2 linked regions of the Homo sapiens genome follow. The protein of the gene in region 2 interacts with the protein of the main gene of each other region in a pairwise test. Each region holds a gene or a part of one and is shown on either strand. Other genes may lie near its edges.

Region 1 (3,500 bases), on a different chromosome or scaffold from region 2:
AGCTAGGTGACCTGTGTGTATTTGAATAAGAAGAGTAGTAGGAAATGAGATCAAAGAGGTAACGAGATCGTGGGCAAATTGCGCAGGGACTTGTAGACTTCTGTTAGGACTGGAGCTTTTTCTGAGTGAAAGCACGTGCCACTGCAGAGTTTCAAGCATAAGAGGGGCATGATTTGACTTGCATTTTAAAAGGAATGCTCTGGCTATTATACTTAACTTTCAAAGGAGTTGATGATTATTTCTGCGATTTTAGGTATATTACAGCTAATACTGACACAGAAGAACAGAGTTTTCCAGTCCCTAAGGCATTTAACACACGTGTAGAGGAATTAAATTTAGATGTCCTTCTTCAGAAGGTAGATCATTTACGTATGAGTGAGTCTGGCAAGTCGGAGAGTTTTGAACTACTTCGTGACCACAAAGAAAAGGTAAGAGACATAACAATAGCACTTCGTATAGTTCCATTTTTTAATTTAATCTGCCATCTGTTTCAGTTATAACTATAATAATTGTGTCATGGTTCCCACATTTTGATGATTGATGTAAAATTTCTCTATAAAATGACTAAAATTTTTTAAAATTTATTTTTTATTTAAGATGCATAAAATTTTAAAAAAGTAAATGTAAAAGTTTATTAGACTCTAAGGTCATAAAAATGAGAACCAGAGCTATAATTACGCAGATTTACTTTTATTTGATTTTTTTTTTTTACTAATTTATATATTTAACAAATATTTTGAGACAGATATGGGTATTCAAAGCTATTTCTACCAATGGTCATTTGTTGATTTTGCAGTGTTTAGTGTTGGGTCTGAATAAGAAAAGCCTGTCCAGAGCTCTTACCACCACCACTAAAAAAAATAAAATAAAATAAAATAAAATTAAAAATTAAAAGTTTGCAGTGTCCCATGGAGAAATAAATCTCTATTTGTCTGAGGATTTAGCAACTCTAAACACATTGTCTAAAACTTGATAGCTCTCCAGGATTATATTTAGGTAATTTGAGTAAAAAAAGTGACTGCTCTTTTGAGTATATGCATTTTCAATTTACAGATATTAACTGAGATGCTCATTATATTGATAATAGATAACTTGGAAAGGAAAAGAAGAAAAGGATGCCACAGCTCAGGAAGAATTTCTAGATTTTGGTGCCTATCAAATCTCTTCTCTGCATAGATGGAGCTAGTGTCTGGATAATATTAATTGGTTTTAAGATCCAAATGTAACACTACATTAGGTCATATTTCTTAGCCATGAGTATTTGGATTAAAAATGTTTCACACGAAATATGCATATACATAGATTCAATAATCTATAAATACCAGTTTACCTGCCTAAGTTTTTAAAAAGTTGCAGTAGAAAACAAGAATAGAATAGACAAGTTACCAAGTTAATTTAACAGGCAACTCCATCTTTTCTTTTCAGTTTAGAGATGAAATAGAGTTTATGTGGCGATTTGCTCGTGCTTATGGAGACATGTATGAACTATCTACAAACACACAAGAAAAGAAACATTATGCTAATATTGGTAAGCATTTTGTAAAGATTATTCTCAAGTAGCAATTAAGATCTATAGTAAATCATGCAGCCGTAAAAAAGGATGAGTTCATGTCCTTTGCAGGGACATGGATGAAGCTGGAAACCATCATTCTCAGCAAACTAACACAAGAACAGAAAACCAAACACTGCATGTTCTCACTCATAAGTGGGAGTTGAACAATGAGAATACATGGACACAGGGAGGGGAACATCACACAACAGGGCCTGTCTTGGGGTGGGAGGCTAGGGGAGGGATAGCATTAGGAGAAATACCTAATGTAGATGTCGGGTTGATGGGTGCAGAAAACCACCGTGGCACGTGTATACCTATGACCTGCATGTTTTGCACATGTATGCAAGAACTTAAAGTGTAATAAAAAAAAAGATCTATAGTAAATCACTAGTGAATGTTAACTAAAGCTAAATTATCTTAGCTAAAACCAGTATGTTTAATCTATTTTAATATATTATGGTACAAAAAAATGTACACTCTCAGAACAGAAAGGCATTTTAGGGCTAAAGTATATGTTCTTCAGAAATATTTGAATATATTAGAATAGGTAACTGAAAAAAACTTAAATTTCATCTTTTAACTTTATAAAACTTAGACAAGAAATGTAGTGGCAGTGTTTGAGAAACAATAACAGGCAGAGGACAAGTGTCTTCAGCAGTTGTCAACCACAGTTAAAGTAACACATCTTACTTCCTGTAATGTAGAACTCTAGGGACTACGAAGAATAAACTCGCAGACTTTAATGTTTTTTCCAAATGTATCTTGATGAAACAAGATTAACCTTGTTAAAAACTCTGTTTGATAATTGTCTAAGCTGAATGATGATTACATGTTGGTTCATTATTCTGACATCTATACTTTTCTACAAGTTTTTGAAATTTTTCATCACAACAAGAACAACTAAATAGATAGAATATCAAACTGTTATTTTTATACCTCACCTTGACTCTTACTGGATGTCAAAATGTGTCCTTGCAAAAGCCCCTACCTGCCATCTCTCTGAATGTCAGCATAGTACTTTGACATCAAAATCTTTTGAATTCTTCATTTATTCCGAAGGCTTCTCATTTCCAGGCTTTTCTTCTAGAAAAGATAGCAAGAGGAAGACACAGCAAGAAAGATTTCTTCCCAGTCTAGTTCTCTGTAATTTTTATTTCCAAGTAGAAAGTTTTACCAAACTCCTTGTAATTATATTTTTCCACTTGGAGATTCATTTGCTGAATGACCTCTGTGCTTTCGTTTCCCCCAGTGGGAGGAGGATGAGAGGGCTTCCCCCTCTTGTTTGCATATTCATCATCAGCTTTGTGGAGTTTTTCTGTAGCATTCCAGTTTGCAGACCATATACAAAACAGAATTCTAGAGAAGAGATGTATTAATTTCAACATAAATAAAAACTTAACCAAGGAGAACAAGGGGATTTATTTTCATATCTACTGAGAAAATCCAAGTATATCTATGTAAAGTGTTCCAACATTCATCAATATTAAATACATTTTTTTCTTTTTTTTTTTAAATTTTTTTAGTATTTATTGATCATTCTTGGGTGTTTCTCGGAGAGGGGGATTTGGCAGGGTCACAGGACAATAGTGGAGGGAAGGTCAGCAGATAAACATGTGAACAAAGGTCTCTGGTTTTCCTAGGCAGAGGGCCCTGCCGCCTTCTGCAGTGTTTGTGTCCCTGGGTACTTCAGATTAGGGAGTGGTGATGACTCTGAACGAGCATGCTGCCTTCAAGCATCTGTTTAACAAAGCACATCTTGCACCGCCCTTAATCCATTTAACCCTTAGTGGACACAGCATATGTTTCAGAGAGCACAGGGTTGGGGGTAAGGTTATAGATTAACAGCATCCCAAGGCAGAAGAATTTTTTAGTACAGAACAAAATGGAGTCTCCTATGTCTACTTCTTTCTACACACAGTAACAATCTGATCTCTCTTTCTTTTCCCCA
Region 2 (3,500 bases):
TAGCAAGGTTTAAGACAGATGACCTGAAGTTTCTGCAATTAAAATTTAAGGCCCGGTGCAGTCGTTCATGTCTGTAATCCCAGCACTTTGGGAGGCCGAGGCAGAACAATCACTTGAACCTGGGCAACATGTCAAAACCCACTCTCTGCAAAAAATACAAAAAATTGGCCGGGCATGGTGGCTCATGCCTATAATCCCAGCACTTTGGGAAGCCGAGGCGGATGGATCACCTGAGGTCAGGAGTTCGAGACAAGCCTGGCCAACATGGCGAAACCCCATCTCTACTAAAAATACAAAAATTAGCAGGGTGTGGTGGCATGCACCTGTAATCCCAGCTACTTGGGAGGCTGAGGCAGGAGAATCGCTTGAACCCGGGAGGTGGAGGTTGCAGTGACCCGAGATCACGCCATTGCACTCCAGCCTGGGCGACAAGAGCAAAACAAAATTCCATCTCAAAAAAAAAAAAAAAAAAGAAAAAATTAGTAGGGCATGATGGCACATGCCTGTAGTCCCAGCTACTTGGGAGGCTGAGATGAGATAATCACCTGAGCCTGGGAAGTGGAGGCTGCAGTGAACAGTGATTGTTCTATTGGAGGCCAGCCTGGTGACAGAGTGAGACCCTGTCTAAAAAACAGTTAAGAAAGCAACATCAGAACTTTAATACCTTTCTAAAGTAATTGGAGAATTCTTACTCTCAAAACACTGTAATTAATGATGACGATAACAGAGTAAAACAACAATCTTGGTATTTCATGCTTATTTTGTTAATATTCACATTAGACATAGTATCCATCATTTTCTAAACTTTGTTCTGTTGCTGTTTAGCCTGAGAGGTCCAAGACTGAGGTTATACTGTCCTTCTCAATTCAGCCTCTTAGAGTAGAATGATGGTAGAAGATTCTAATTAAAACAAATGATCTTATAGGAGGAGGAGTCAGGCTCCAATATAATGGAATTAACATTGAAAGTACATACGGAATCTAGCTCTGATAAAATGGGTAATCAGATTCTAGGGCAAGAAATGGGAATTGGGCCTGGGCACTTCACTCTTTCTTTCCTCCCTTAGTCCTTCTCTTATATTATCATCTTTCAGTGCACATCTAGTCCTCTCAGACTAAGAGGACTCAAAGTGATCACTGGAAGGAGAAATACAAATGACCCAAAATATAGTACAGTAAAATTTACAAATAATCCAAGAAACAGAAATTAAAACAAGATACCTCAAAGAGTTTGTTTTAAGGGAAGGGATGTTGTTGGAATATTATCCAAAACTCTGCATGATTTAAGTTTTTAACTTTCATGCAGCATGTAATTCTCTAGGTAAGTCTCAATACATGAATGACTCTGATTTCTATCTGAAGATCATTAAAATAACAGTATTACAACAAATATACCAAAAAAAAAAAAATCACAGTTAAATTTTCTTAGGGGAAGAGAGGTTCAGCCCTAAGATAGATATGGTAAATTGGCTTGGCTTGTTCAATCTCTATTCTATAATCCTTCTTCCAATGTATCTCTTGTGTTACAGAGGCAGGAAAGCTACATCTGAAATTTCCCAAATTATCTTGCAGCTAGGATTCTAGATATAAATCAGGGTTTCCCCAAGTAGGTGTATGGTGTAAGAGATTTGGAAGGTGGAAGAAGAGCAGAAGTCCACTTTTTGCTTCTTTGGCTTTTGTTTCAACTGTTCTTTTTTTTTTTTTTTTTTAAATAAAGGCAAAGTCTCAATCTGTCACCAAGGCAGAGTGCAGTGGCCTCATCAAAGCTCATCACAGCCTTGAACTCCTGGGTTTAAGCAATCCTCCTGCGTCAGCCTCCTGAGTAGCTAGGGCTAGAGATGCATGCCACCATGCCCAGCTAATTCTTTAAAATAATTTTTTGTAGAAACAAGGTCTCTCTATATTGCCCAAGCTGGTCTCAAACTGCTGGCCTCAAGTGATCCCCCCACTGCTGGCCTTGTTCTTTCATTTGTCTGTTCTCTCATTCCTTCTCTTCCCTCCATCCTTCTCTCTCTTTTTTTTTTTTTTTTTTTTTTTTTTTTTTTTGCTATGAAACAAAGCTGTGGAGGCAAAATGTTTCTATAGCAGTATTCCAATATGGATTCTCCAGCTTCTTGATAACACAGCTGCAGGTGTGGTAGAGACAGTGGAGAGACTCCAAGTTCCAATACCAAGGTATCACTTTGTTAGGTTATTGAGAGGCAGATGTGGTGATGGCTTTTGTTTTGTTTTGTTTTGTTTTGTTTTGTTTGAGACAGAGTCTTGCTCTATCGCCCACGCTGGAGTGCAGTGGCGCGATCTTGGCTCACTGCAAGCTCAGCCTCCTGGGTTTACGCCATTCTCCTGCCTCAGCCTCCCGAGTAGCTGGGACTACAGGCGCCCGCCACCAAGCCCGGCTAATTTCTTTTTGTATTTTTACTAGAGATGGGGTTTCACAGCATTAGCCAGGAAGGTCTCAATCTCCTGACCTGGTGATCCGCCCGCCTCGGACTCCCAAAGTGGTGATGGCTTCTAATTCCTGGATTGTAACTATGATCATGATCACGTGCTCTTGTCTTCATGAGCATATAGCAACTTTGATAGAGCTTGATCCTGTAGGCCTTCCGATGATAATCTAACCATTAATTCCCTATGTTAAATTCCTTTCTGCTTATGGCACATAGACAGGTTCCTGTTTACTGCATTAACAGGGGTCCTCAACCCCCAGGCCTGCACAGCACTGGTACCGGTCCATGGCCTGTTAGGAATACAGCCCGAGGCCAGCAGGATGGTGGGCCAGTGGGTGAGCAAGCGTTACTATCAGAGCTCCGCCTCCTGTCAGATCAGTGGCAGCATTAGATTCTCATAGGAGCAGGAACCCTATTGTGAAATGTGCATGTGAGAGATCTAGGTTGTGAGCTCCTTATGAGAATCTAACTAATGCCTGATGATCTCAGGTGGAACAGTTTCATCCTGAAACCATCCTCCATCTGGAAAAACTGTCTTCCACGAAACAAGTCCCTGGTGCCAAAAACCAGTCACTGTGCATTAGGATGTATGGGTGACACAGTACTTAGTATCTAGAAGTAGGGCTGACTCAGCAGAACCTGAAATATGTTCCACTGGCTGAGTAATCAAGTGGTAGATGGCAAGAAAACATGCCTTACAAGCTTTCAGCTCTTCAAAAGAAGGCCTTTCTCAGTCAGTGGCCTGAGATCTAAGTTGAATGAAAGTGGTAATAGGGGTAGAGGGGGTTACAGGTCTCATAGGTGGTAAAGCCCAAACACAGGAAATAAGATGGCTGCTCCTAGCCTTTCCCAAGAAGAATCCCGTGATAAGAGTTACAGGTTAGCTGGACATGGTGGCACCTGCCTGTAGTCCCAGCTACTTGAGAGGCTGAAGTGGTAGGATCACCTGAGCCAGGAGTTGGAGGCTGCAGTGAGTTATGATGGTTAACACTGCATTCCAGCCTAGGCAACAGTGCAAGACCCTGTCAAAAAAAAAAAAAAAGTTGTGGCTTTA

Evidence for each region. Proteins that work in one complex are often made in the same cells at the same time.
Region 1: the proteins of VEZT (region 2) and RMDN2 interact in a two-hybrid assay, tested with the Homo sapiens proteins (one large-scale study listed by BioGRID).

Annotation. Positions count from the first base shown.
Region 1 is NC_000002.12:37,973,787-37,977,286, forward strand, and holds part of RMDN2 (regulator of microtubule dynamics protein 2), read left to right. Parts: intron 1-253; coding exon 254-428; intron 429-1,425; coding exon 1,426-1,528; intron 1,529-3,500.
Region 2 is NC_000012.12:95,224,307-95,227,806, reverse strand, and holds part of VEZT (vezatin), read right to left. Parts: intron 1-3,500. UniProt on the Homo sapiens protein: Plays a pivotal role in the establishment of adherens junctions and their maintenance in adult life.